Linked DNA regions of Homo sapiens: region 2 is linked to region 1. Evidence: fine-mapped expression QTL. A gene starts in region 1. The other region holds a variant in brackets. All regions are shown on one strand. Distances are from middle to middle.

Region 1 (16,105 bases):
CTCTCCTTCTCATCTCATTTGTGCCTCCCCCTCTATTCTCAAGTATGTATCCTTTCTTCCTGAATATTTGGCTATGATTACGTAGGCACCATATCAGTTGTTTCCCATAAATAAAAGGGGAAACATACATATATGCATACATTGACACATAAAATCATCTTTTCAAAATATTACATTTTGGAGACAATTCCAGTGTGGGAAGGATTTCTCTATTGTTTGGTTTTGAGTACTCAAAATGATAAATAAATGTAACTTTCAACTAAATCCATCATTTATATAAACATAGGTGGGTCATTAGACATTGAATTTACTGAAAGTAATTTAGTTTAAAATGTTTCTTCATCAGTGAAAATTGAAGTTACTGGACTTGAGTAGATGAAGAAAACATGGACTCCAATAGCTTGAGTCAAAATTGCCAATATTATTTACTGATAAACTAGCATAGAAATTACAATCAGGGCAGTTTATTCCTACCAGAAGAAAATAAGACAGTAGGGTTTTTTGTTTGTTTGTTTTTTCCTGGCAGATAGAACATTTGAGCTCTTGATATGTTTTAAATTTCAGGCAACAAAATTATGTAAATATCCTAAAATTACATAAAATATGAGTAAACACCTATTTTTCTATGAACTATTAGATGTATGAAAAGCAAAGATGCTCCTTTCTCCTCAATTTATCTATTTAGAAATACTAATAACAATAATAATCATAAGAGAGTGTGGGGAAAATCAAATGTCAAGCCTCACCCAAACAGTAGGTAGGGAAAATGTTAGTATTCCAATTCACAATGAAGCCTTTTACTCCAATGTACATTGGAGTAAATTGGAGTATTTAATACTCCAATGTACATTGGAGTACATTGGAGTACATCAGAGTACATTGGAGTATTTAATACTCCAATGTACACTGGAGTAAATTGGAGTATTTAATACTCCAATTCACAACACGGCATTCAGTTAATCATAATAGTTTGTAAATTATATAGGTCATTGTATTGCTTTATAGCATGTCTATGCCTTAGTGCCCTAATAAAAGACACTAGTTTTCCTTTGCTTTTATCTAGTGAATTTTGATCATACTAAACTCATAGGTCACAGGTAAATTACTGTATGGTAGTGCTGAGTGGCAATAAATTGAGAAAGAAATAGGTTCAAATCTTACATTAGCATACATTTTTACTTATTAAGAGCCCGGTCAAAGATTTAATGACAAGAATGTTAAATGTAGTGGCTGACAGGAGTGCTGAGCTTACCTTCAAGTTAATTCATTCCTAATGTCAATGTCTTTCATTTCCATACTTAGATATATTAACTATCTATTCATCACATATTTCTAGAACGGGTTTGAAGTCTTCACTCTGATCTTATAAATCATACAAAATCTTTCCAGATCGGAGCAAATCTAACTGCTAGATTTAGAAATTGCCCTAGTGATTTTAACAAGTTGATATTGGAGATGGTTTTCTTTCTCAAACTTAAATGTATTTATTCTTCATCCAAACTGAGGATTCTGGGGTTTTGGTCAAGGTACTATATTATAAACAGATTGTAATCAAAGATGGAACTGCAGCAGTATCAGGAAAAAATTCTAAAATATTGCTAGTGCATGGGAAATGTGGACCCGGAAGAAGGGCAGGGATCTCACTCTCCTTCCCTTTTGTTCATCCCCTACACCAGCGTTTTAGAATATCTTACATTACAATGATTACGCAGGGTAGCCTACAAGTGAGAGGGGAAAAGGCATAGTACAGATGTATGTACACATTTTCTTTATTTCAATGAGAAGGAATTGGGTGTTGAGGTCGGTTCACAAAGAGGGTTAAGCCTCCAGTCTGTTGTTGTTCTGATACTATGGTGGAGGTTGTTAAATCATCCACCAACAGAGCCACTTCCTGCTTTTCTTCCCCTTATCTCTGAGTCTCTGCTTAGCAGCTTGCTTGAACATTAGTTGTAGAGGCTCCTAAATTTTGAGATCAATTGGTCTATTGCTAAACCCTAAGGAAATCATTGCCTATTACTCCCATGTTGTATTTAGCTATGACTTCAAAGCTTAGAATGACCAGTACTCACTAGATAAAAGAAAAATAACTTGAAGAAGCTTATATGTGAACTCCTTGTGGAAAGGGGCCACGTTTAATTAATCTTTGTATCCAAAAATATCACACAGCCTAGCACATAGTGGGTGCTCAAATATGTTTGTAAGCAGGTTGGTGAAACAAACTAGTCAGGAAAGGATAACACACGAAATACATGGAGAACAACCTAAACATTAATAAGGACCAATTAGTTAAGACAAATACTGGCACGAAATTAAAACCCCTTCAAGCCCTTATTGTTTACATGATGTTTCTTGTACCTATTTTGATTTATTAAGTCTAATACAATACCTAACACTTCCATACTGAGTACCAATATATGAAAGATTTTATAGACATAATTTCTTTTAATCCTTTAACATTTTTAAATTGTCTTCAGTTTTACAGATAATGATACTAAGGCTCAAAGAAGTGAAGGCTAAATCCCTGGTTATTTGAATCTAAAACCTGGGCTCTTTCCACCAAATTACATTCTCTGCTTTTAAAGTCTCCTTCTTTTAAGGGCAATTTTCCATAAGCTTTTTTACTTCATGTGAATTAAATAATATGGATTGCTGTGTTTCAAATAGCAAACTTTCAAATATTTGTTGAGTTTGATTAATCAAATCCTGAAAAAATAGGAGAGTTTAGGGTAATAGGACGTGGACATAGGGTCGTCTACCAAGAGCCAAAACTGACTCATAAAATCTGTAGATTACATGACTTATCATAAATACACCAAAATAACAGGCTCCCACCTTTCATAGAGACTGGAAAATAGAGAAAGTGACAACTTTCACAAGAGACTTCACTGGATTTAACTCACTATATTATTGGGAAGATTCAAGAAAATTTTTAAAATGAAATAAACACTCACCTGCTCATTCCATTTATGTCATAATTTCCCCCAGGTTGTGTCTGTTTTACTGTAATGCCATGGCTCTTGAATTATAACCTGTGTATTTCAACAGCCAATCAGCAGTACTGTACTGTGAAAAGCCTGTGACCCAAGATAAGGAAGTAAATATTTGCTTTGTGAACCACAATCATTGACTACAATAGAATTATATTTACTGACACAGGGAATTTTTAAAAATCTCACATACAAAGCTTAAGAAATTCAGTGATTTTAGATATTTATTAATCATGCTAGAATACTAAGTATAAAATACTTCTATAATTTCATGAAAAAGCCTGCATATCTAATAAATAGTAGAGTAAAAATTCAAATCCATTTCTATTTGAAATAGATTTTATTTTCCACCATAGGTCATTGCTTCTCCTATAGGGACCTCCCATCATTATAAATTCTGAATTACTCAGGTTTTACTGTATTTGATAAACTGGTACCACTGATGATTATAAAATTTTACACTTTCAGCTGGGCGCAGTGGCTCACGCCTGTAATCCAGCACTTTGGGAGGCTGAGGTGGGTGGATTGCTTGAGCCCAGGAGTTCAAGACAAGCAAAACCCCGACTCTACAAATAATACAAAAATTAGCTGGGCGTCGTGGTACACACCTGTAGTCCCAGCTCCTGAGGTGGCAAGATCACCTGAGCCCAGGGAGGTTGAGGCTACAGTGAGCCATGACTGAGCCACTGCACTCCAGCCTGGGTGACAGAGTGAGACCCTGCCTCAAAAAACAAAACAAAAACATTTATACTTTCTAGATAGTTTAATACCTAAGGACTTTATAGATTTTCCAAGCTAGATAATTAAACTTTTGAAACCAAATTTGTCAAAAGTTATAGAACTTAAAAAGTCAAAAACAGGAGCTTACAAGACCACTGAATCATGTGAAACATTGCAGATACAGAGCTCGTTAAGGTAACACATTAAATTCTTACTTTTAACATGTGTAAATTTCACCTAGAGCTTAGTAGTTGAAGTAAGGTATGATTCTAACCTGACATGGTTTTATAATTTAGCTTAACTGACTCATTCTGATGAGAAATCAAATGAATGTCCCTATGATCTCTATGTACTCCCATCTTTCCTTTCAACCCCTTTATCTCAGAAAAACTCAGAAGTTCTTCCATAACATTGGCAACTGGCAGAAACAATCCACGACTATCTGGGAACTCTTCAGACACAAGCTTCTCATAGTAAGGTGTTTGTGAGCAAATTGTTTACTGATTCCGGACTTCTAAAAAGAAGTGTAAAGGTTGGAAAACTCAGGGGTGTAGCAGTATATGATGAACCCCAATGCCCTGGCTGATCCAGCTTTTCTGGTTTAGCCACAGTGATCTTTGTCACTGAGCATTTCCTTTCCTTGTTTGCTTCTGCCTTTTAAAAAATTAATATTAGCACTCAAACAAATAAGAAAAATGTACCAGAACAGCAGTGGAAACACAGGCTAAAGACTTGAACGAGCCATCCTCAAAGACAAAAACTGCTTATCAGTATGTCAAAAAGTAATCAGTCTTATTGGTAGCCAAAGAAATAAAAGTTTGAAAAATATTATTTTCACCTATCAAGTTAGCAAAGATTTTTTAAAGAATGGCATTATGTTGGCAAGAACTAGCTGTTCTAAGCATCGTGCCCAAAGGAGAAACTGCAATAGAGATACGCATACAAAATTTAGGCATGAGGATCAAAATCCAAAGATAAAAGAATGGCTAAATAAAGACATTCATAAGGTGAACTATATCACTAAATCGCATTAAAAATATCAATTTTAATTTCTTGAGAAACAGCAACAAAGGAATGTTAATTTTTTTAGAAATATGAAGTTCTAAAACAGCCATCCCAACCTTTTTGGCACCAGGGACCGGTTTCATGGAAGACAATTTTTCCACGGATGGCAGTGGGGGTGGGGGAATAGTTCTGGAATGAAACTGTTCCACGTCAGCTCATCAGGCATTAGATTCTCATAAGGAGTGCACAACCTCAATTCCTTGCATGCGCAGCTCACAATAGGGGTCACGCTCCTATGAGAATCTAATGCCAGCCGCTGATCAGACAGGAGGAGGAGCTCAGGAGGTAATGCTCACTTACCAGCCACTCACCTCCTGCTGTGCTGCTGGCTTCCCAACAAGTCATGGGCTGGTACCCGTCTGCAGCTCAGGGGTTGGGGACCCCTGTTCTAGAATATGATTCAAATTCTTAAAACAATGGTACGTTTATATAAAGCAAATAAACTTGTGGTAAACCATGCTGTGTTTTCAATAGCAGTTCTTTAGGTATTGAGATAATTATAAGCACTCAGTACATGCCAAGCACTATGTTCAGTACTTTATATACATTGCATTGTATTTATGCTTGCATCCTGCCTTCATCCCTCTTGTATGTCTGAGGAAACTGAGGCTCAGGACAGATTAGTAACTTGCCTACAGCAATAAAGTTTTTAAAGGGAGGAGCCACAATACAAGCTAAAGCCAGCTTGACCCAAAATTCATGCTCTTCACATCCATATCTGCCTATAGGTAATTTTGTATCGTAGGGGATCTAAGATAAGCAAATATAGAGCTTTTATAATTGGGAAACAAATCAGTAATATAAATGTTGTATTAAACACATATATATTCCCAAAACGACAATTCTGAAAATTGCTTCCTCCAAAGATGTAGGACCATAAACACGAGTTTTAGGAGCCCAACTAGTGTACTTGGTAAACAGTGTAAGTGCTGATTTTAAAAATGCAATTCTTACCTTGGAAGACTTTTGCGAGCCATGTCGACCCTGCAAAATTTATTAATTTAGGAAAAATTATTTTACACCTGCCTTTGCCACATACTGTGCCAGGTGCTGGCACAATAGCAGGAATGATCGTCTAAATGAATTTCTTTGGAAGTTAGGAAAGTGTCTTTTTTTCAGAGATAAGTGTGGGTAGGGAGAGAAGGAAGGTGGGAGTATCCATCAATCTCACACTGAAAGTCTTGGCTACCTATTGGCTACCTATAGCAAAGGATTATTTTAAGGTTTTCCATAAAAATATATTTGTCTGAGGACCCTTGACACTCCCTTGGAAATGTCATATAATTTTACGCCTCCACAATGCATTCACACTTACACTCTAACTATACCAATCAGGTGAAATAAAATGCTTTTAACATCACATAGCATTATTCTCAACCTCTGGGTATATAGCGGTCCTTCGATTTGCCCTCTTTGGTAGTGCAGTATTCTCAGTGTTAAGTAAGCAGAGTTGGAGAGTATCAGAAACAGGATTCTCAGCAGAAATGTGGTTGAATGGACTCCCAGCCCTCTTGGCATCGTACCTCATCATCCATGCCTACCTTCCTTTTCCAGGAAAGCCCATGTATTTTAGCAAACGGACTTCTGACACAAAGGCCATTATCTCTACGGCTTTAGATTAAAAGGTAAAATCTTTCTTAGACTTTACTCTGCAAGTCAACCAGAATTTTGATCAATTCAGATTTAAAATTTTCACTTTTACTTGGCTGTTACAGTAAGATCAAACGGGTAAGAATATATATTTCTCCTTTTCTTCAAAGACCGTGGCCCTCGTGGTAGGAAATGTTAAGGAAGGTTTATTATTATTATTATTTATTATTATGCAAAAGTATAAAATGGTCACAGGAATAAGGAACTTAGACCTTAAACATGATGAATTCAAATAAATAAGTACCTCAGAGGAAGAGCCCTACAACCAAAGAGATACCTATTTGAGAAGGAAATGCTGTTTGCCTTAGAATGAACAGGATAGTAAATTAACTCTCCTTGTTAATTCCCTTCCGTGGGGACTAAACGCCAAGGAGTAGTTGCGGAACTATAGCAAAAAGGGTCGAAATCAATCAGCATAACAGACACCTTATGTTATTTGTTCTGTAAATTCGACGGTTTTCTTAATCGTTCAGACTAATTTCAGGAGGAAGGATGAGTGCCCCTGGCTCTGAGATCACGTGTCATTGCCATGGAGATTTATCTTATTTAATAAGTAATACCACTCAATCTTTTTGTAATAACGAACACTTCTTTTCTTGTTACCTCAAACTAAATAAACTACTCTCCTATGGTGGCTCTAAGTGCGGGTTTCAAAAGACTATAAAAACTAGTGAATAAATCCAGTCTCCCATGAGTGTGCTAATTACTGTTTTAGTTCATGTTAACAGAAGAAATGGCTTAACAACAGTAACAACTGGAGGAGGTCAAACTTCTCATTCATTTGTATTAAATCACCCTTCCATTAGATAGGAGTGCTATAATGCATATTTCTTGGATAATACTCTCACTACAGAAGACTTCGGAAACAAGTACAATGTACTTTAAATGTTTCACGGTTTGCAAATTATTTCGTACACGCAGCGTCTGGCAGTTGTGAATCGAGGAGGAAAGCATTATTTTCCACTACACTAATAAAAATCAATTCTCACGTCTTCAATTAAATGATTTTCAGAAGGGTTCATCACCCGGAAAACCAGTATGTATGAACGCCGGAAATGCAGATGGCACCCAGCCTCAGAACTGCTTATTCTAGATGGGAACCAAACTAAGATTTCTCTTTATTATTTGTGAAAGCCATCCCACGCTGGAGAGAATCTCGCCGTAAAACAATTTAAGAAAAGAAAGAAATAACTCTGAAGAGTGTGAAGTTCTCCAGACAAATCTTATAGTGAATCTTTTGAAAGAAGCATTTATGGAAAGGTCAGGGGAGGTCAGGAGAGTTATGCCAGGAGCCAGGGTCAATCGTCCCCGGGCGACAGGGGTTCTCCCACGTGAACCGACGTCCCGGGCTCCGGGCGAGGCGCAGGGCTCAGGGCGCAGGGCGGGTCCCGTACGCAGGGCGGGCGCGCGGGCATCTTTGTGGCCAGGCGACCCCGGCTCGCTCTCCCGGAGCCCAGGGACTCCCGAGGCTGGCGCGGGCTGCCCGCGACAAGGTGCCAGCAGCCTCGGGCTCGCGAGGAGCAGCTCCCACCCGCGGCTTCCGAGTCCAGCTCTGTCCCTCCGCCATCCCCTAGTCCTCCGGCATTTATTCAGGGAGACAGGGAGGCAGAGAGAAGAGGAGAAAGCGGCCGTGTCTGCACCCAGCCTCTGCCGCAGCACTCGATGAGGGACAGCAGGGAGGCTGGCGGGGAGGCAGAGATTAAACTATGATTCCATCGATCACGGAAAGACCACCATCACCTACAGCAAAGGAGGCTCCGATGCGCCCACCCGGGCAGCGACTCGCGGTTGGTGGGCGTTCCTCGTCCTCGCCCCCTCGGTGGCTGTGGAATCCACCCCGCGCCGCACACGCCAGGACTCCCTTTCCTTTGACTAAGGGGAGGGGAAGGAACAAAAGAGACCCCCCACCCCCTATACATACATACACATACACACACACACACACACACACACACCCCTCCGGTATTTTACTGCTGGTCAAAGGATTCATTTTCGCAACCTCTTCTTCGAACACCTTCCCCACCTGAGCAGTGCATTTTCCCAAAGGTAAAGAGAGATAAGGGAGGAAACACAGCACCCAAGGTGATCAGTCGATTGGACACTGTTGATGGCACATTCTCCTCGTTCCCAACCAACCGCACAAAACCCGCAACACCTCGCGTCCCCGCGGGGTCTCCCGCGCCCCTGGCCCGGCCCTCCCGGCCGCCCCCAGCAGGCGCCCCGCTCTCCGCGGGAACTCTGGGACCTGGCCGAGCGTTCCCCGGCGGGCAGGACACTCGCCCGGTTCCCTGCAGCAGCTGAGGGCGGCGAGCGGACCGCGTCCAGGCAGCGACGCGGGATTCAACTTCCCGGACCCGCGGCGCGGCCCCCGCTCCCGCTCAGGGCGCCGCGGCCACAGCTGAGACCCCAGCGCCGCGCAGCCGCCCCCGCCGGGGCATGGGCGGTCGCGCTCTCCGCCCCCTCCTTCCTTCACCTCCCCCCTACCTTGAAAAAAATCCATCCATTGGTGCAAAGCAGACATTTTGATGTCATTTACTTAGCACCGCTTGTTTTGGAGGCAGCGTCTTACCCGGTCGCCTGGAGGTGTGGGCAGCGCGCCGATGGGTCCGGGGGAGCGGGGCTGGGCGGCTCGGTCCTCTAGCGGAGCCGGTTTGCTGCCATCCGCCCAACTTCAGCACCCAGCGGGCGAGGAGAGAGGGAGAGCGGCGAGGATGCAGAGGAGGGGGAGGGGGAGGAGGGAGCGGTGGGCGGGGAGGGAGCGAGAGCCGCTCGGCAGCGCGCATGCGCCTCGCGGGCCGGCGCAGCCCCTCGCCCGGCGCGGCCGGAGGGGCAGCTTCCCAGCCCCTGCGCGCGGCCGCGAGAGTCCCGGCCCCGCCCCCTCCCCGGGCGGCCCCCGGCCCCGCCCGACCTCGCGCGCTCGCCTGGGCGCGGCGCCCACCGTGCGGAGGGGCTCGGCCGGGACTCTCGGCTTCGGTGACGCCCGTCCGGAGCTTCGCGGGAGGCCCGGAGTCCCGAGAGCTTCCCTGGGTGACAGCGGCTCTCCGCCCGGGCCCCTGCAACTCCACTCGCCCGTAGCCCGCGCGCTGCTGTCCTGGGCTGCGCGGGAGCCTTGCACCCAGGAGCCGGCCTGCCAGGCACAGCAGCCTGCCTGCTCCGGGTCCCGGAGGAAGCATTCCCTGCGTGGGGGTTCAAGGAAGTGTGAAGTTAAGCAAGTTTTGCTTCCCGAAGGACTTTATGAAGCGTCCTTTACTTTATTGACTTCCTCGCCCAGAAAGAGGACCTTTTCTCCTAAGAATCAGTGCAGGTGCTCTCTGGCCTAGCCCATGCCAGCTGCCTCAGGCGCCCGGACCACTCGCTGGAGCAGAGTTTTGAGTGAGAAAAGCCGATGACAAGGCAAGAGTGGAGAATTATTAACGGAGGTGCTGATGCTTGGGGCCTAGAGCATCCTTAGGGGACAGCTTGGTAGTTACCAGGTCTGATAATCGTTCTGTGCCCAAGTGGAGCCCAGCTTGGTAGGGAAGGAGCTTGGGATACTTAATGCAACCCGAGCGCTAGATTGCATCTCCAATGATTAGACTAAAGTGTTTGTGCGGAGGAAGTGGAGAAGCAGTGTCTTGCTCTTCAGATACCACATCTGTGGGAAGAGGAGGGAGTTCCTGCAGGAGTGAATGGGCTTTTTTTTCTTACACCTAATTAAAACAGATTACTTGTAAATCTGTGTGAGTTCCCCTTCCTTGTGTGTTCATGTAAGCAAGCGTTGTGTTATTTCAGCCTACTGAACTCTCCTGTGCCTCCATCCTCATAGACTCACGGGTACTTGGGTTAAATATGTCTCAGGGCCTCCTCCAGGGCCTCCCATGGCTTTGAGTACTAGTGCTCTTCAAAGTGTCTTCATTTTTGTTGGATTTCACAGAAGTATTTGTCTTTGTCTTCCAGGCTGCTATAACAAAATACCATAGACTGGATGGCTTATAAACAACAGAAACTGATTTCTTACAGTTCTGGAGACTGGGAAGTCCAAGATCAAGATGTAGGCAGATACCTTATTTGGTGAGGGCCCAATTCCGAGCTCATGAACTGCTGACTCCTTGCTGTGTCTTCACGTGGTGGAAGTGAGCAAGGGAGCTCTCTGGGGTCTCTTTTATAAGGACACTAGTCCCATTCATGAGGGCTCCACCCTCATGACCTAACCACCTTCCAAGGGTTCCACCTCTTTATATCATCATCTTGAGGGTTAGAATGCGAACATACGAATTTTGGAGAGACAAACACGGCTAGTCCACTGCAGTATTGATTCGCGGTGGATAAAGATAAAAGTTCTTCACCAAAAATGATTTGAGCAGCGTTGAATCCTATATAACTTTCAGATTTATGTCTTCAGTCCTGTCCTGGCCTCACACAGAACTCTTATGTCCTTCACTACCTTTACATCTCCACTTGAGGAATAATTGTCGTAGCTGGTATTTATTGAACAATTACTACATGCTAGGTACAGATCTAAATTCTCCTCATATTTCGTATTCGTTGTTCACAACAACCCTACAAGGTAGATACTATTATTATCATGGTTAACAGGCATCTCAGAAGCGGAACTCCGGATATCCACCCCCTCCAAACCTGTTCCTCCTCAAATTGTTCTACTCTGTTGTTCATTCCAAAAATTTAGAAGTCATCCTCGTTTTGTTGCTTTCTTTCATCCCCGCACTCAATTAATTAGTCATGTTTTCTTCACCTCCAAAATATATTTCCAAGGTATCTACTTTGCTCCCTCTCTACTGCCATAACCTTAGTCCAAGCTATTGTCATCTCTCACCTGGGCAACCACAAAAGCCCCTATTCTGTCTGCTCATTTCTATCCTCCACAACCCCGAACAACACCCTCCTAATGAGAGGTGACAGCGTGCCGGCAGTCCTCACAGCCCTCGCTCGCTCTGGGCGCCTCCTCTGCCTGGACTCCCGCTTTGGCGGCACTTGAGGAGCCCTTCAGCCCACCGCTGCACTGTGGGAGCCCCTTTCTGGGCTGGCCAAGGCCAGAGCCGGCTCCCTCAGCTTGCAAGGAGGTGTGGAGGGGGAGGCGCGAGCGGGAACCGGGGCTGCGCGCGGCGCTTGCGGGCCAGCTGGAGTTCCGGGTGGGCGTGGGCTTGGCGGGCCCCGCACTCGGAGCAGCCGGCAGGCCCTGCCGACCCCGGGCAATGAGGGGTTTAGCACCCGGGCCAGCGGCTGCGGAGGGTGTACTGGGTCACCCAGCAGTGCCAGCCCACCGGCGCTGCGCTCGATTTCTCACCGGGCCTTAGCTGCCTTCCCGCGGGGCAGGGCTCGGGATCTGCAGCCTGCCATGCCTGAGCCTCCCACCCCCTCCATGGGCTCCCCTGCGGCCGGAGCCTCCCCGACGAGCGCCACCCCCTGCTCCACGGCACCCAGTCCCATCGACCACCCAGGGGTTGAGGAGTGTAGGCGCAGGGCGCGGGACTGGCAGGCAGCTCCACCTGCAGCCCCAGTACGGGATCCACTGGGTGAAGCCAGCTGGGCTCCTGAGTCTGCTGGGGACGTGGAGAACCTTTATGTCTAGCTCAGGGATTGTAATACACCAATCGGCGCTCTGTATCTAGCTCAAGGTTTGTAAACACACCAATCAGCACCCTGTGTCTAGCTCAGGGTTTGTGAATGCACCAATTGACACTCTGTATCTAGCTACTCTGGTGGGGCCTTGGAGAACCTTTGTGTCTAGCTAAGGGATTGTAAACGCACCAATCAGCGCCCTGTCAAAACAGACCACTCGGCTCTACCAATCAGCAGGATGAGGGTGGGGCCAGATAAGAGGAGAAAAGCAGGCTGCTGGAGCCAGCAGTGGTAATCCACTCCGGTCTGCTTCCACACTGTGGAAGCTTTGTTCTTTTGCTCTTTGCAATAAATCTTGCTACTTGCTCACTCTTTGGGTCCACGCTGATTTTATGAGCTGTAACACTCACCGCGAAGGTCTGCAGCTTCACTCCTGAAACCAGCGAGACCACGAGCCCACCCGGAGGAACGAACAACTCCAGACGCGCTGACTTAAGAGCTGTAACACTCACCGCGAAGGTCTGCAGCTTCACTCCTGAGCCAGCAAGACCACGAACCCCCCAGAAGGAAGAAACTCCGAACACATCCGAACATCAGAAGGAACAAACTCCAGACGCGCTACCTTAAGAGCTGTAACACTCACCGTGAGGGTCCGTGGCTTCATTCTTGAAGTCAGTGAGACCAAGAACCCACCAATTCCGGACACACTAAGAGCTGAAGGATCTTTTAAAAACAATCAGAGGCCGGGCGCGGTGGCTCACGCCTGTAATCCCAGTACTTTGGGAGGCCAAGGCAGGTGGATCACGAGGTCAGGAGATCGAGACCATCCTGGCTAATACAGTGAAACCCTGTCTCTACTCATACAAAAAATTAGGCGGGCATGGTGGCGGGCGCCTATAGTCGCAGCTACTCGGGAGGTTGAGGCAGGAACATGGCGTGAACCCGGGAGGCGGAGTTTGCAGTGAGCCGAGATGGCGCCACGGCACTCCAGCCTGGGCGACTGAGTGAGACTCTGTCTCAAAAAATATAAAAATAAAAAATAAATAAAAACAATCAGGTTGTGTCATACCCTTTCTTAACACGCTCAAATGAGTTTTTTTTTTCATTGCACTTCAAACACAATTTGTAATTCTTAAGACAGCCTGGAAGGTTCTATATAGTATTGTCCCTAACTAGTTATCTTATACCACGCTTCTGTAGATCATAGCTAGTGTGTTTTAGCCATGTAGACCTGCTTATTTGGGTTTCTTGAAGAAATCTAACTTGTAATATTTGCTGTTCTTTCTGTTGGGAATCCTGTGCACCAGATCTTTGCATAGCAGACTCCTTAATATCACATAAGTGCCTCCGGAAATATCACTTTTCAGAAGGCTTCATCTGACCACCCAATCTAATCTGCCCCAGCGAGTTCTTTTCTGTTGGATCCCCTTATTTCATTGTCTTTAAAACACTTCACTATCTGAATCAGCTTGGATTCATTTGTTTGCTTATTCATTCTCCTCAGCCCCTGCTAAAGTAAAGAATCTCAAGAGCTTTGCTTTCACTTTTCAGTGTTTTATCTCTAGTGCCCAGAACAAGATTTGACACATAGTATATGCTTAGTGAATGAAGGATGGATTGAAAAAATAACAAACTTAGAAAAAGTGTTCTTTATTGTTTGCTGATGCTTCTTCTTGGATCCTAATTGCCGCCTTTCAGAATCTGTTGCTTTTCAGAAGTGAACAGATAGACCACGTTGTTTCCTCTGCCCAACCTATCACAGATGGTGCCATGATAGACTACACTGTTTCCTCTGCCTAGCTCACCACACATGGCTGCATGCAGGGGTGCTCCTTTAAACTAGATGATAGGGTAAGGTTCCCAGAACCCACTTTTAAAACAAGCATATTCAATAAAAAAGGGACCCTTCCATAAATTCTTATAATGGCTATTTGGGCAATTTTTATATGACAACTTGGCTATTCTGCTATTCATTTAATTGCTTAAGCCAAATGTAACCCCTTGGTGACTTTCTTTCATGGTTGTAGTTTTTTGTGTAATCCCTTATGCATGAGCCAGAATCTGTAATAATAGTATTCTAGGACTGAAAATGTTGCCTACCATCTGAGAGTTGACTAGATGGGTGGAAACAACCACAGCTTTAATGACATTCACCTTGTGGAGTCTGATCACTTGCAGTCCCTGTGTATATCTTGGTGGTATGGTTTGAGTTTGTTCCCTCCAAAACTCGTATTGAAATTTGATCCCCAACTTGGTGGTGTTGGGAAGTGGGGCCTAGCAGGAGGTGTTTGGGTGCTGACGGTGGATCCCTCATGAATGGCTTGGTGCAGTTCTCCAGGTAGTGAGTGAATTCTCACTTGGAGGAGACTGGAAAAGTTCTCATGGGAATAAACAAGTTCCCTAGAGGGGAGATTCTTACAAAACCAGGATGCTCCTCAGGCCTTGTCTCTTTGCATGTGTCCACTTCCCCTTTGACCTTCTTTGCCCTGTTGTGATGCAGCCTAGAAGCCCTCAGTGGAAGGCAGGGCCAGGCCCTTGAATTTCCCAGCCTGTGGAACTGTGACCTAAATAAACCCGATTACTCAGTCTCAGGTATTCTGTTGCAGCAACACGAAACAGACCAGGACACTTGGTCTAGGGAGTTATCTGCAACCCCACTGACATCAAGTGATGACCAGATCAATAATTCAATTCAGTAAACTTCATTAATATCTACTATATGCCTAGTATTATGTCTTCAAATTTTTTGCAAAAAATGTAAATGTTATATAAAATTATCCTACAGGACTCAGAAATGGATTTCAGTTCATTTTGGCAATGGGGATGCCTTCTCTTTATACAGAATTTCAGAGCTCACTGGGCCAGTCATCATTAAACAGCTATGTGGTAATTATGAAAAGGAGCATTTGATCATGAGCATTTCCCTACCATAATGAATGTGTTTTTTTTTCAAGTAGAGAAATTCTGGACACAGCAGCAGTTTAGGTATAATGGCTTTACAGTAAGGCACGAAGGAGATTTGCAGAGAAGATATTTGCAGACAGAAAATATTGCAAAAGTGCAGACTATCAACATCAAAGTATTTAGTGTACATTTATCCATAATTAGGAATATTTGTCATTATTAGGAGAGCTGGAAATTACCTCAGTGAGTTTGGTACCCTACAAAAGTATTTCCAGGAAGAAACTATGTAGCATTTTAAAATTTCATTCTCTTTTCCTACATGCTTATTTATTTAAAAGAAGCTGTTTTTCCTTTGAAAAGCAGAGGGAAAGGAAATTAATTGTTTGCTTGAATCTAGAAAACCCTGACTGCTCCAGCCAGGCAAACTTCTCCAGAGTGGAATGTGGAAGGATAATTAGAACATGACTGCTTCAGCAGACTTCTTCTATACTTTTAGTAAATAGAGCTAAACATGTTTCTCCAACTGATTTTAATCAAACCATTGAGACAGGTTCATCCCAGGGAACTTATTTAGATGGGAAATACTTGTGTTTCTTCATCAGTATTCAAAGAAGAGAAGAGAAAAGAGAAAAAGGAAAGATAGTCTGTTCCCCAAAAGCTAAAAAATGAAATATAGAATTTTATATTTTCTATGTAATGTACTTAATTATGTTTTTCTGTTTTTTCTTTTACTTTTTTTTTTTTTTTTTGAGAAGTAGTTTCACTCTTGTTGCCCAGGCTGGAGTGCAATGGCACGATCTTGGCTCACTGCAACGTCTGCCTCCCGGGTTCAAGCAATTCTGCCTCAGCCTCCCGAGTAGCTGGGATTACAGGAGTGCACCACCACGCCTGGCTAATTTTGTATTTTTGTGGAGACACGGTTTCTCCACGTTGGTCAGGCAGGTCTCGAATTCCTGACTTCAGGTGTTCTGCCCACCTCAGCCTCTGAAAGTGCTGGGATTATAGATGTGAGCCACTGTGCCCGGCCTGTACTTAATTTTGAATAAATCATTAGCTATTAATGTTCCTTTGTTTAACTTACCAACTTTGAAGTTAAAAGGCTCACTATTACTCTTTCAGAATAGTGCTAGTAAATTTATATCTCAAGGTAATTGAGTGAGTCCCTAGAAATAGATATAAACATCTTTATGGGATTTTAAAAATCATTTATGCCCAATTTT
Region 2 (16,105 bases), 100 kb after region 1:
GGCTTCCACCCAAAGAAAGAGGACTCTGAAAGCAACCAGCTATACAGTGAAGGCAGCCATGGATAATTCACAGAACTTTGATGTTGTTTATAAACAAAAACTAGAAACGGTGTCACAGTAGTTTTCTACTTACAGAAAGATAAATCAACAGATGAGAGCAGCAGGAAAACCAACAGAGTGGGTCAGATGGAGACATCCTGTAACGTAAAAGATAAAGATTATAGCAGAGAAGGGATATCCTGTAGAAAACATTTAGAAGATGGCCTTTTTTCTATCAACTAAATTCAGAAAAATATAAACTATGTGGCATGAGAAACAAAAGACAAGATAAAACAAAAAGATGAAAGAGGAGCTAAGAGGCATATACAAAATTAACAGAAAAGTGAGTGAAGTGAAAAAGATGTGTTTAAATTAATACACTTACAGAGTTTCCATATACACCTTGTCATGCACGGAATTGTGTGACCCCAAAGTTCATATGTTGAGGCTCTAACCTCAGATATGACTGTATTTAGGGATAGTGTCTTGAAGGAGGTAATAAAGGCCCCCTTGAATGAGGTCATAGGGTGGATCCTAATCCAAAAGACTGGTGTCCTTGTAAGAATAGGAAGAGATACCAGGAGTGAGCACACACAGAAGAGAGGCCATGGGAGGACACAGAGAGAAGGTGGTGTCTACAAGCCGAGGAGAGAGGCTGCACCAGAAACCAACCCTGCCAGCAGTTTGATCTTGGACTTCAGCCTCCAGAACTGTGAGAAAATAAACTTCTGTTGTTTAGGTCCCCCCAGCATTTTAATACGATACAGCCCTAGTAGACCAATACACACCTCAAGCAGTGACAGGCAGAACTGAAACTGGAGAAAGTTAAAAGACTAATATGGAGTCTGGGTGTGGTGGCTCATGCCTGTAATCCCAGCACTTTGGGAGGCCGAGGTGGGCGGATCACCTGAGGTCAGGAGTTCAAGATCAGCCTGGCCAACACGGTGAAACCCCGTCTCTACTAAAAATACAAAAATTAGCTGAGCGTTGTGGCACATGCCTGTAGTCCCAGCTACTTGGGAGGCTGAGGCAGAAGAATTGCTTGAATCCAGGAGGTGGAGGTTGCAGTGAGCAGAGATTGCACCACTGTACTCCAGCCTAGGCAACAGAGCAGGATTCTGCCTGGAAAAAAAAAAAAATAGACTATACTGAAGAATCATAACTTCAGAATCTTTTTCAGAATGTGGAGAAAAATAAAAACCAATTGACAGAAGGGAGCAGGGAGATGTAAGACTTGGGAGACAGAGAATAGGGATTCAACTTATAGGTATTGGGTATATTTTTTATAGGAAAAATATAACAAAAAAATTTTAAAGGACTTAAAGGATTCGTTTAAACCACAAATATTACAAATAAAAATGGATCCTTATAAGCAAACATATTTAATTATAAGAGACCAATACTTTCATGTAGCCTGATAGTATTATACAATTTCAAGATTAAGAAAAGAATCTTGTGGTTCCCAAACTGTGTGCCAAGATGTCTGGGGGTATTACCATAAACTGACACAATGGGATATTTTCAGTTTTTGAGAGAAACAGAGGAATACAGGACATCTTTTGTATATGTGTAAATTAGCTTAAGGTAGTTCATAAATTTGATTGTACTTCATTTCTTTCTATGATGTCACGTTTTTGCGAAACTGGATTTTTGATGGGTGTTTTGATAAAAAAGCACATCCTATATGAAAATCGATGTGTAACAAGAAATGAGGCTGGAGGTGTTCAATCTGATTTCAAGATTTGAGAAGTTATGGCTGTGATCAGTAGGCACATATGCTTTCATTAATGTGTAATTGTGGTTATTGAATAGTTTAAGCGTGGTTATTAAGTAATATTAAATTATTTAAGGGTGCCACGAACCGAGGAAGTTTGGGAACCTCCAATTAAGCAGAAGGGCATTTGAGCAGGAAAAAAAAGAGAATACAAAATATTTCTTATAAAAATAATAAAACTTAGCTTGTCTTAGTCTTATCCCACAAAAGTAAACCCCAGATGGCTAAAGAAGTTTCTATTAATATATAGGCAAATTAATCTCATTTTTTTTCAGTTTTTTTTTTGGTGAGAGCATGTTCATGGTATACATTTTCTTAGTTCTGAATGTCTGCTATTACCTTTTCGATAAAAAGAATTACTGAAAGATATTAAAAGAAGAGGTGTTTAAACTAAACAAGAAATACATCAAAATTACTAAGCTGTAGGTGAGATTATAATATAAATTTATCTAAGGCATTTATATATATATATATATATATATATATATATATATATATATATATGGTTTCAAATCCATTTAAAGGACAAATAAGCTATTTAAAAAGAAGACAAAACGTTTAAAATACCTTTTTCTTTTGAGACAGGGCGGAGTGCAGTTTTATGATTTCACCTCACTGCAACCTCCGCTTCTGCCTCCCGGGCTCAAGCAATGGTCCTTCCACCTCAGCCTTCTGTGTAGCTGGGACTACAGGCATGTGCCATACACCACCATCCTGGGATAAATTTTGTCTTTTTTGTAGAGACGGAGTTTTGATATGTTGCCCAGGCTGGTCTCGTACTCCTGAGATCAAGGGAATCGCTCACCTTGGCCTCTCAAAGTGCTGGGATTACAGGTGTGAGGCACCGTGCCTAGACTTAAAATACATTTTAATAATAAAAATGTATGTCTACAACACTACTTTTTCAGATGATGTATGCTAATATGATCAACACAAATATTTTATCTGTTAAATTTCAATTAAAATCTCTTTTTTCATGCTTTCTTGAGAGAATACCATGTGCCAAGTAAGTACTTATGAGGTGTTGGACCAATTTCCTAATGTGTAAAGATTTCTTATGACATTTTATTTACTCTCTAGGTTATTTAGAGAATAAATGTTTAGAAGTTATAAAAGAGTAATTTTTAATCCTGTTTATATATGATGATAAATTGAAAGGAAAAGAACCCAAGAGAATGTGATTTTATTTGATTTTTGAGATTTCAAAACATAATATGTAGGAAAATATGTAGTAAAACATCTGACTTTCATACTTTTTATGTTGAGTTTAGTAATAGAAATTTATGAAATAAAAATATTAAGAAAAGTACAAGCAAAAATTAATATTCTTCCTAGCTAATTTAAAATGCTGGACATTTTTATAATATGCATTTTAATGATTTCATAAATAGCAAATTGTAACAAGTTAGGCATATGCACTTGGCTTTTATTTATATATTACTCACTTATCAAACTATTTTTTTAGATTTCTAGGATGTTATTGAGGTAGGAGAATGGGGTCTGGAGACAGGGAGCCTAAGGCAAACCTGCAGCTGACTTCTTGGAATTGGACTGAGAGGAAAACCCTACCTCTCGATGCCCAAGTGACAAGAGGTCAGAGGCCCTTCCCTCTACAAAACCCCTTCCCCCCATGTCAGAAACAGGAAATGCCTCTGATTGGTCTGGGCCAAGCCTTCACTTCAGCCTCTGATCGGTCATGGACCAAGCCTTTATTTGCATAGGGTGTAACCAATTGGAGGCCTCTAAAAGGTACCTAAGGGTGTTACCAAATTATTTTAGTCTAATAAAAACCCCAAAGAACAGTGCAATCAGGGCCCTTGAACTGCTTGCTGTAGCCCATTCCCACTCTGTAGAGTGTACTTTTGCTTCAATAAATCTGTGCTTTCCTTGCTTCGCTCTTTGTTGCTTTGTTTGTGCATTTTGTTTAATTTTTCGTTCAACAAGCCAAGAACCTGAACAACTCGCAGCCAGGACTTTCCATCTATCTTTCAACCAACGTTATCTATCTTTCAACCAAAAAAGTACCATGAGCTAAAATAAATTAGTCCTAAATACACAGATTTGTTTTAAATTCAACAACATAAATGTCAAAAATTATCCCAAAAACCTATACAAGTAAAATATTAAGATAATAATAAAAATAGGGCTTTACTCAATTATGTTTTGGAAATAGGCAGAAGTGAAATAATTTTTGCAGGTGTAGATTCTGTTTTCAGGTTTGAGATTAATATGGTCTTGCTTATATTAGAGGAATGTTCATATCCTCATCAGAGCCTTTCCCACAAATCCCTGATTGGTTTAAGAACAGTAGGAGTTTGCGTTTAGTAGGGTTTTGCAATATGCTGGGGACGAGAGCCCTTGATACTGCCCCTCTTAAACTGCAGGCGTGAGTGCATTTCTGGCACCTACCACGTGGTTCTTTGAAAAAGCAAGATCCCTGGGAATATACATCTCAAATTCCTTTCTAAAATATGACAGGTTAGTGAAGTTCATTTTCATGATCAATGTCTTGCTAATGTTTTGAGATTTTATGGACAAAGAAAAATTTACAGATGTATATGTATTTTGCTGCCAGTAAATGAACCACTTTTAAAACAGTACTCCTTTGAGTTTTTTATTGGTCTGAAACACATGCAAATAGTTAATATATTAATATTTTATATACCAGTGCTTTTCAAACTTTAATGTGCCTAAGAATGACTTAAGGATTTGTTAAAATGTAGATTCTAGTTCAGAGATCTAGATTCTGCTGTTCCAGGGACTTTGAATAGCAAGGATGAGAGCGATGACCAAATTCAAGTGTAACTGAAAATGAAGACTTGGAAATGAAGAGCCTTATGAACCAATATGAGAGTTTTTAACTCTATTTTGAAAGCTAAAGGAATTTGATCTGTCATGACCATATTTTTATTTTAGAGAAATCACTCTGGAAGTTGTTTGAGTATGTATTGGAGGGGAATTGGACTAGAGCCAGAGAAACTACCTAGTAGACAAAAAGTAATCTAGTTACCCAGGTACAGCCCGATTAAAGGCTGCAGGTCCAAGGACCACAGAGAGCCAATCTATAGATGACACTAAACTTGACAAAAATATAGTGCCAGTTAAGCCAGACTTTCACTTATGGCCTTAGGTAACTGATGAAAAGTAAAATGATCCTGCTTCTTGCAACATCGGCTATAGATTTGAGCACAAAATAGGACACCATGTCTTGTTTCTCCTAACGTATGTCTTGTTGATTTTTGTTGGAGGTAGAGGTGAATACTATAAGGGGCAACTTAGACCTCGTATTTGACCACAAGACCAGCCAACTGAAGCCTCTTGAAGTTTGAAGTTTCTTTTTACCATCTGTTTCCTTCTAAACTGGAATAATGCAGGAGGTAGTATGGTAACATGGAAGTGAACTGTACTTTACCATCTAAATATACCTCCTGAGATACGGCATAGTTCATGAAATTGATGTAGTGAAAAAAGCCACTTTTAGTATATCCAAGTAAAGTATCTAGATGCCCAGTAAATACTAGTGACTAATGTTATCTGGTAATGAATGAAGAAGACTTTGAAGTAAAACAGAATTCCAAATAAGTAAAAATGCAATGTTCTATCACTAAACATGATCAGTCCTTTATTTTGGACATAAAGAATATGCTAGACATATTCTAGCTGGGTTCAGTATGCCAACAAAAAATGGAGGTTGAACCAACTGTTTAGAGAGTATTTGTTTGAAAAGGGCCTAAGTAATGGCCTTGTATTTTCACTCATATGTATATAACTGTAGGTGGGATTTTGAATACATTTACAAGAAATTAAACAATAAAAGAAATCAGATAATGGAAAAGGGAAAGTGTTCATTATAACTCCCTTTATCTGGAGAGTCTTATCTAACACATATAAGTAGGAGTGTCAAGGAAATACTTTTATTTGAATAGACATTTTTGAATTAACTCTGGATGTTTTTCTCTTCCTGGTAGTCTGATTCCTCCTCTTGCACTCTTTCCACTATTTTTAGTGCTAGTGAAGAATAGGCTGGGGTGTCTGTGTGTGTGTGTGTGTGTGTGTGTGTGTGTGTGAATGATTCTGAGGTAGGAGAAGGTTCTGATGTACGGGAAGTTGTTATCCCTCAGGAAGAGAATGTAGACATCTTTCATGGGAAAAACAGAAGAGTGAAGGAAATCCATACAGCTGATATTAAAGGGCTATACTTAGTTTCACATTTAGGGATTTGCGGGGGGAGATCACTTCGCAGTGTGCAATAGTGCAGCCATAGTAATTGAGAAGTGGTGATAGTGCATTCAGACAGAAAAAGAGCAGAAGTTGAGCTCCTCCATGCATGTTCTGTCTAAGCTCCCATGTGGCCCAGAAGGCATTTAGAAATTCCCAGGGGGGTAGGGAAAGAAGATGAGTTTGGAAATTTCAGACCTATTATTGGGCTTCTACAGAAAGGGGCAGTGTGACCTTAGGACAGAAACAAAGGTTCAGGGCCTAGACAGAAGCCACACTGAGAATATGGCCAAGATCATGGTGGGCTGAGTCAGGAAGGGGACACTATGCTCTGAGCTTACTGAAAAGAACAGACCACTAGATTCACCAACTCTTGACTTCAGAAGTGGGTGTCAGCAGGCACCAGCAAGCAGAAAGGAAAATGCCATTGTGTTGCAAGGGCGAGAGGGCACTCAGAACATAGGACAGTATCTTGCACATGGCTCCAAGGGCCTTGCCCCCTTCTGCCATGATTATGTATAAGGATTCCCATATCCAAGTACCATCTGGAGTTGGAACTTAATATAAGGTGTCATTACTTTAAGAAAATGGTTACGTCTTAAAAGTAACCATGCCTTACATTGTTTTAAATAAAGAAAGAATTGGTTATAATTTCTTTGCGCTTTACTTGATTAAAAGCTAAACAAATGTGACATTTTACCTTTCAATTTAAGCAGTGTTAGTTTTCTAACCTTGGAATTTAAAAAAAAATTCAATTTAAATTCAAACTGCTCATTACAGAAAGTTAAGAATGATCTTCTCTAGCACAGTAGTCAGTATTTTATCATTATTATGCCTATCTTACATGGTAATGAAAGTTGTCGAGCTTGTGAAATAGGATATAATGACTAGGGATATTAAAATTGATCATATTTCTCAAATTCATTAACAATTAGATTCTTGACAATGCCTTTAATTATTTTCCTTCTGTAGCATGTTGGCTTGGGTAGTTTTTACATCATGGAGGGCATAAAATGTTTTAACATGTTTCAGGAGAAAGTGGTTTGCTTGTAATTTGTATCTTCCTCCATGTGTACAACTTTAATTTTGACATGGATATGGTCCAAAGATACATGAGAAGGGTGGACAAATGATTCACTT[T/C]TAGAGGTTTATAAGACTACTCCTTAGTTCACTGGAAAAACTCATTTGCTAAATGGACCCTCACTGCTCTGTGAGATGTTTACTTTGCTCTTATGTAAGTTCAGACTGCTTCGTTCTTCTAGCATTAACTTAGTTTTGGCTATTTCTTCTTATCCCTTTTCATGGTATATAAATGCTCAGCAGACACTTAAAATCATGTGAAAGACAAACCAAACTACTTTTATTTTAAAGCTAATTTTCTGAGTGTAATTTTCTTATCTGTGAAATAAGAGTTGCACCATAGAAAAATATTTTTTTAAAAAAATGAATGAAGCAAATCTGATCACTTTAATCTCTTTGTTGTTTAAGGTTAACATTCCCCTAAACACCCTGAAATGTAAAAGAAATTTTAAACAAATTGAGGGTACTCTCTATATTTCCTTAATTAGTATATTTTTGGAAAGAGTATGCTGTATACTGTTTTTGTTCAAAATCTTTTCCTCAGATAAATAATAGGGACATTGAATAGAAATAAAATGATGCAGAGGGTAAAAGGCTATTGTGAGACTTTGCTTTCTTTCAACAATTAATATATATGTTTTCACATTCAGTTGCGTTTGGTGATTACAACAGAGAATTCCTTGAAAATCGCAGAAAGATCAGTACCTGTCACATGCTAAATGTGGTATAAATTATGCCAGCTGCGTTTCTAGGCGCCAACACCAGACGGCGCTAAAACACTGCAGTTAGTTGCCTGCCTGCCAGTCGAGGTGATGTTCACACTTCGTTCTACGCACAACGCGTGTTCTGTACATATTGCTAAACTGAGGGATGGGCAGAGAAGGGCAAACTGTAACTACAGTTTATTTTAGCTCATGTTTAAATACAGGATATACTCTGTTTTCCTTCTGTACAGGAGAGGGAACTCTTCACAGGTGAGCTCAAGAATGCATTTCATTACCCTTTGTCTCTTGTTCTTGTTGGCAAAAATCAGTGGTTAGGTGCCTGAGTGTGAGCAAAGAAATAACTGGCTATATCCGTCTAAATTAATCACTAGTAAGGAAAATTAGGGAAGTTACAGGAAGTAAAGACCCTCAGGCAAAGGCTCAGGGATAATTTAGAAAGAACTAGAAGGGTGCATGGTGGGAGTGTAGTGAAGAAGCAAACTTGATTTTTGAAAACCCAGAAAAATATAAGAACTAGTTTTCTTCTTTTTCCCTGATGCTATTGCCTTTCAAAACGATGAAATAGTAAATGGTAAATTTTGAGATTGCATGTTATAGTCAATGCAAAAGTTTTTAAGAAAAGCAGATATACTTGCTGCTTCTTGAGTTAGAATATAGAATGAGAGATCTAACACAGCAGTGGCTGTGTTATAGATAGAAAATGTGATGGAAAGCAGTTGCAAAGCTGGGCATAATTCCATAAAATTTTTCTTTTTTTAAGATATATTTGCTAGTAAGGCAGTATACACACAACAGAGCACTTCAGTTTCAAATTATGTTAAAACATCTATGAAGTAGTCAGCAGTATCATAGATTTTTTGCTTCTGCCATTCAATGAGGCCCTGTCATTGACAGAGCTTGGTGACTACCAATTGTTGATGTTGATGGGCTATGCTGGGGCTCTCAGGAGAGCTGGGGTCTCTGTTCTCTGAGGTTTTCTAAAATTCTGAGATCATATGGTTTCATAACAATGAAAATCACTTGATAGCAGCAATGGAGTTGTCGTTATGAATACCGATTTGTTTAACTGTTAGTTGTGAACACCTAGGAATGAATTTGCTTCTTAATGGCCATATTATATTGGACATTCTCAGAAAAAAAGGTTTTTAATGAAGAAAATAAAAACCAAATTTCAAAATATACTACAATTATATTTTCTATTCATTAGACAAAATAAGAGAAAATGAAAAAACCATAAATTGATGACTTTAAAACTAAAAATAGGTTATTTATTCTTAAACAAGAATTTATTTCTTCTTTAAGAAATATAATAGCTGAGAACCTCAAAAGAAACCTACACCTAAGGAATGATGTGAAGTAATAGGTACCTATGACTTCTAAACTTATTGTGTATGAATTTATTCACATCTATCATCATTTATACAAAAAACACTTAAAATTTCACAATCTCTCCTGTTCCCACAATTTATAACAGAAAAAAATGAGGAAAACAATTAATAGGAAAAATTACTGTTAGACAATACAATACAATACAATACAATACAATACAATACAATACAATACAATACAATGCAATGCAATGCAATACAGTACAATGCATGCTTCTGCAAATTTTGTAGAGAACATATGTGATGACAGCACAGCAGTTAACTTTTGTTAAGATTAAAACAGTCGTGGTGCGGTGGCTCACACCTGTAATCCCGGCACTTTGGGAGGCCGAGGTGGGTGGATCACCTGAGGTCAGGAGTTCGAGACCAGCCTGGCCAACATGGTGAAACCTCATCTCTACTCAAAACACAAAAATCAGCCAGATGTGGTGGTGGGCGCCTGTAATTCCAGCTACTCGAGAGGCTGAGGCAGGAGAATTGCTTGAAACCGGGAGACCGAGGTTGCAGTGAGGCCAAGATTGTGTAACTGCACTCCAGACTGGGTGACAGAGAAAGACTCTGTCTCGGAAAAAAAAAAAAAAGATTAAAACAACACAATTGTGATTTTGCGATTTGATAGTGAAGAGAGATTTTCAAATTTATTCCTCAGTTTTTTCTGAAAATGAAAATGTTGTATAACCACTTAACAATTTACCTATTTTCAGGAAATAATATTCGATAAAACGTTATACCATCACTGATAGGAAGGAAAAAAAGCATTCTTAATTTGTTTTTTGTTAGTTGACTTGTTTTTTTTTGGCGGGGGGCACAATTTCTTATGACAAGACTTTGAAAAGATCAAGATCTTCAAGATGGCTTCAAACTTATCAACTTGTAGGTATTCTTGTAAATATAAAGAGAAATGTGAAAGTAATATGCTTCAATAATCAAATTAAATTAGCACAATTGCAATTTTTGTTTGAATCAAGATGGCTTAATAGTTTTATGAGGCTACACATTATGGAGAATATATTTTACTCTCCTAAGCCAAGAGAAAACTTCAGGACCAACTAAAGTGTACCCAAATATGCATTTATCATATTTTATTTGTCTATATTACTCTTCAATATAATGGTTTTATGATGTAGAATATCTTGATATTTTATACCTTTATCAGAACCTTTATACATGAACACAAACTGTATACCTACATCTTTAGATTTTGGTACTAAGACAAAGGGGTCAGTTACAAGTGTCTGAGAGTTGTTTGGTTGGTAAAACTTCTAGAAGATAGTGAGTTCTGAGAAAATCATGGTAACAGAAAGTAAAACTTGCACATGTGGTGTTGTGAAGAAAGAAATTGAAATGGCAGTTACCACTTAGGTAAAAGGCTAATAAACCCGATTTTAGAAGACATGAATATCTGCATTTTAGGATTCTTTTCTTGGTTTGAATAAGTGATTCGAGAATCCCAACTGGACTGTCAGAATGGATGTTAACTAAATAGAAAAGGATTCTTGAGAAAAAATGGATAATGTAACACACAGTACAAATTTGAAAAACAACAAACATTTGTGATGAAATGCAAAGAAACTGGAGCTCCTGGCTGGGCGCAGTGGCTCACGCCTGTAATCCCAGCACTTTGGGAGGCTGAGGTGGGTGGATCACCTGAGGTCAGGAGTTTGAGACCATCCTGACCAACATAAAGGAACCCCGTCTCTACTAAAAATACAAAAAATTAGCTGGGCATGGTGGTGCATGCCTGTAGTGCCAGCTACTAGGGAGGCTGAGGTAGGAGGATCACTTGAACCTGGGAGGCAGAGGTTGTGGTGAGCTGAGATTGTGCCATTGCACTCCAGCCTGGGCAATGAGAGCAAAACTCTGTCTCAAAAAAAAGAAAGAGAGAGAGAGAGAGGGAAAGAAAGAAAGGAAGGAGGGAGGGAGGGAAGGAGGGAGGAAGGGAGGGAAGAAAGAAAAGGAAGGAAGGAAGGGAGGGAGGGAGGGAGGGAAAAGAAAAGGAAGGAAGGGAGGGAGAGAGAGAGAGAGAGAGGGAGAGAGAGAGGAAGAAAGGAAGAAAGAAAAAGAAAAAAGAAAGAAAGAAAGAAAGAAGGAAGGAAGGAAGGAATAAAGGAAGAAAGAAAGAAAAGGAGAAAGAAACTGGACCTTCCACCTCCTGGGTAGTTTGGAATTGCTCAGTCTAGCATCCGATTTTGTAACTCTGATAAGTCTGAAACAAATACATATATTGATGAAAAGTTGACGATAAATAAAGCTAAAATTATCATCACATCTCCAATAATCTTTTATAAGAGATGATACAACTGCATTCCTTTTGACTTTAGTTAACGACTTTTAGTGAAGCTCTTCAGTGACAGCTTGCATACAGAATCAAACATGTTAGAACTATAACATCCCCAGAGCAGGGTCAGAATGAAGCCTACAGTTGGGATAGAGTGCATGTTTTGCCTACCTGTTTAACACATTTAAAGAATGGGGTCATGATATATACTACATAAGTTCATCTCAACCCACTATGCTGCCTTCCAGATACTTCCACAAGCAACTTAAAATTATAAAATGAGTACACATACTCATTTTATGATTATGAAAAGAGTACTCATACTCATCTTACTCTTACTTATAAGAGTAAGAGTACCCTTACTCTTACAAAATGAGTACATGTACTCATTTTGTATATGTACCTGTACATATATAAGTTGCTTGTAGAAGTATCTGGAAGACACTTCCACTAAAAAGTAACAAGTCAGATTATTATAATTTACACAAGTTAAGTAATATACTGATATTAAATCATATTTTGCATTTTACTCATCTATGTTAAAATGTACTTAGTGTGTCCTTTATCAATTTTGATTAATTTGCAAACTTTAACATATTATATTCTAATTAAAGTTCATTTAATTTATTATATTCTCCAGTTGCGTTTTTTTTTTTTTTTTGGTTAGCACACAACACTTAAAACCGTTAATCCTTAGGGTTTTGGTTAATTAATACTATCTTATTAATGAGTTTTGAGTACTTATTAACCAGGAGAAAAAATAGTATCAGTCTTAGCATCTGAAGTCAGAAAAAATATAGTTAAAAAGGTTAAGATTTGTAATCTCTTTATTATTGGATTTATCCCGTAAGAAAATAATTTTGAATTTTCCTCTTTGGGAGACCGAGGCGAGTTGGTCACGAGGTCAGGCGTTTGAGACCAGCCTGGCCAACATAGTGAAACCGTCTCTACTAAAAACACAAAAATACCAAAAATTAGCTGGGCATGGTGGTGCCCACCTGTAATCTCAGCTATTCGGGAGGCGGAGCAGGAGAATCACTTGAACCTGAGAGGCGGAGGTTACAGTGAGCTGAGATCGTGCCACTGCACTCCAGCTTGGTGACAGTGGGAGACTGTGTCTCAAAAAAAAAAAAAAAAAGAATTTGCCCTTATTGTCTTACATTCTAATCACTACATAATGCTCCTTTTTTTTTTACACCAAAATCGGGTCACTCAGATCCTCAGCATGAAACTCTCAAATGGCTTCCCATCTCCATCAGAGTAAAATCCAAAGTTCTCACAGTCACCTACAAGGTATGGCGAGATCTCTGAGCACGCCCTGACAATATCTTCTCCTTTCTTCCTCATTCTCTCCACTATACCAACACTGGTTTCCTTGCATGCTCCTATATCCAGCACACTCTAGCCTCCCATCACTGCTAGGGAGCTCCCCTTCTCCAAAACATATCTTCCCTAGACACCCAGGCAGCTGATTACTTTGTGATCTTTCAGTCTTTGCTCAGCCTTTCTCAGTGAGACCTTTCCTGATCATCTTATATAGGAAGACTTCCTTCTCTATCCCCTCATCTGCTTTATTCATCTTCACAGAACTTATTTGTTTTCTTTACCCTTTCCTTCTTCAGGTCATAGAACTTATTGCCACCTGTGCTTTACATGTTCACGTTTCACTGATTATTTCCTTCAGTAGAGTGTAAACTTCAAACATTTTTCCATATATTATTAAAGTTATAACTTTAGTACTAGAATAGTGCCAGAGACACAGTGAATACTGAAAACATATTTATTAAGCATGGAAAGCTCCTAATTCTTTGAAAAATCATTTTAGCTATTCTAGTTTCTTTGCCTTTCCATATAAATTTTTAAATTATTGGGTGAATTGTGCTAATATTTTTGAGGAATCTTGTCTAAGATGTGAAATGTATGTGTGTCTACTTGTTTGTACTGTCTCCTTCCTATTCTTCTGATGTCTCCATAATCTGTAGTGATGCTTCCTGTTTCATTCCAGGTATTGATCATTTGTGTCTTCTTTTTCTTTTTTTTGCCAGATTTGCTAGAGAGTTGCCAATTTTATTGATCTTTTCAAAGAACCAGTTCTTTGTCACATTGATTTCCTTTGGATTTTCCCCAGAGTCGGGGGTGCTCCTCATTACTATTAAATGGGGGAATGGATAGGAATGGATATTCCACCTTCCCATGTGGTCTCTGCTGACACGTGGTAGGGGCAGTCTAGTTACCACTGGACAATGGTTATAGTTCTTACTTTCCATGAGGCCTCTTCTGATGCTACCCTAGCAAGGAGGAGCCTCAATATCCCCAGTGGGAATGGAAGTTTAGGCTTCCCACGTGGTCTGTAGTGACACCATGGAGAGGGCCTTATCTCCGGCCAGCAGGGTAGAAAGTCCTGGCTCACTGCTTGGTTTTCTCTGGCACTGATCCGGCAAAGGTGTTGAGGCCCCTCTTCATAGCTTCTTAAGGACGGACATCTCAGCTTTTTACTTGGTCTTTGCCAGCATAGGGGGGATGCAAAATATTTTTTTCATCATTGTCCAAAAATTTTCTGTCTTGCTAGGCTGCCCTTTTCCTGGTCCTGTGGTTAGAGAAAGCAGAGATTTTTCCAGTGTGTTTTTTCTTTGCACCTGTTTGTGTTTCCAGATCGCTTTTCATCAGCTCTACATCTGGGATATATGAAGCTGAAAGAAAATCTACAGAGCTCACAACTCTGTCATCTCTTGGATCCTGAGATTCTTGTCCTGTCCATCTTCCTCTCTACATCTTTGAGAGTCTTCTTGTGTTTGCTTTAAACATAATGTCCAGTTTTACTTAGTTGTACTTAGCAGGAGGAGTAGTTGTACTATATAGTTGTACTTAGCAGGAGGAGTAGAAGAAAATGTGTTTGTTCCGTGTTTCCCAAAGCACAAATCTGTCTCAAGCACACATTTGTAACTGGTTTGTTAGGGGAATTTGATGGTCTTATATCTCTACCTGACTGCTTCCGTGCCCCAGGAAAATTGCTGACAGGTGAAATATGTCTTGTACTTTATCAAAACAATCAAACCAACAAAAGCATGAAGAAAAACAAATTCTTTCCCTGAAAGAATCTCCCTCTCTTCATTTTCCCTGAACATGTAATTTGTAAGGGCACAACTCTTTTCAGAACGTCCAGTTTGTTTACTGAAAGAATTTTGTGCCTTTGTGTCTAGAGGCTGTGACTTCTCTCAAATCACAAATTTTGTTACAACTATTCTAGCCTAAATTAACCAGTCAGGATATAGAACGATACTGTAATACAACAGTTCTAAATTGGGGTCCATTTGACCTCTGAGGGGGCATTTAGCAATGCCTGGAGAAATTTTTGTTTTTCACAACTTAGAGTGCTACTAGCATCTGCTGGGCAAAGGCCAGGGATGCTGAAAACATCCCCGAACGCACAGTACATACTCGAATAATAACAAATTATCCTGTCCAGACAGTCAATCGTGCTAAGATCAACAAACCCTGCTGTAACAGGGTGTGTAACCCTTACTAGAGACACCAGTACCATTCTGCAAATAGTAGATGGAAATTGCTTTCTGAGAGGGCTACCTTAGGAGAGAGTGTAGCTTTCAATTTATAGGAGAGAATCAGTAGAGAAACTGTAGTCTGAGACAGTCGGAATTGAAAAAATGATTCTACGAGAGAAAGTGATAGCGTAATCTCACAGATCCATGAATAGCAATAGGCACAACCAGTGAGGTTGTGTACAAAAGAGGATTCTCCCACATTGCTAGTGGGAATGTAAATTTGTACAAACTCTGAAAAATTGCCAGAGAGTATCTAGTAAAGTTAACAATACACTTATCCTATGACCCAGAATTCAAAGCTTAAGAATAGAGCCTAGAAATCTTTGCACATTGGTACCAGGAGACTCATAAATAATTTACAGAGCAGCATTTTTCAAAATAGTTAAACATTGGGAAGAACAAAATTTTCCTCCACTGTAGAATATATGCTAAATTATGGTCCATTCGTGCATGTGAATGCTATAAAAAGGTGAAAATAAATGAATTACAGTTATATGTATCAACACTGAAAATTTCAAAAAAGCCTCAGCAAGAGAAATAAACCAGTATTCAAAAAATATGTACAGTATGATTCTATTTATAAGAAGTTCAGGCCAGGTGTGGTGGCTCACGCCTGTAATCCCAGCACTTTGGGAGGCTGAGGCAGGTGGATCACCTGAGGTCAGGAGTTCAAGACCAGCCTGGCCAGCATAATGAAACCCCGTCTCTACTAAAAATACAAAAATTAGCTGGGCCTGGTGGCATGCACCTGTAATCCCAGCTACTTGGGAGGCTGAAGCAGGAGAATTGCTTGAGCCCGGGAGGCGGGGGTTACAGTGAGCCAAGATTGCGCCATTGCACTGCAGCCTGGGAGACAAGAGCAAAACTCCATCTGAAAAAAAAAAAAGTTTGAACACTAAAACATTTTGTATAGCAGTAAGTACAGATTTGTTTAAATTTTTAAAAAGTCAAATAAATAATTGTCTCATGTCAGGACAGTAGTTTTCTAGGAGTTAAGGAGAGGGATGTGATAAGGAGACAGGCATAGGTCTTCTGTGTGTGGC

The links.
Region 2: its variant is fine-mapped to the expression of RGS17 in thyroid (GTEx, PIP above 0.99).

What each region holds. Positions count from the first base shown.
Region 1 is chr6:153,122,133-153,138,237 of GRCh38, forward strand. RGS17 (regulator of G protein signaling 17) reads right to left here and starts at 9,150. Exons shown (of 5, transcript NM_012419.5): 1 at 8,992-9,150. RefSeq lists a silencer at 9,032-9,081.
Region 2 is chr6:153,223,352-153,239,456 of GRCh38, forward strand. No RefSeq gene overlaps it. Among named protein-coding and RNA genes, the nearest start is that of RGS17, 100 kb to the left of the region's middle. The variant T/C (reference allele first, on the strand shown) is at 7,172.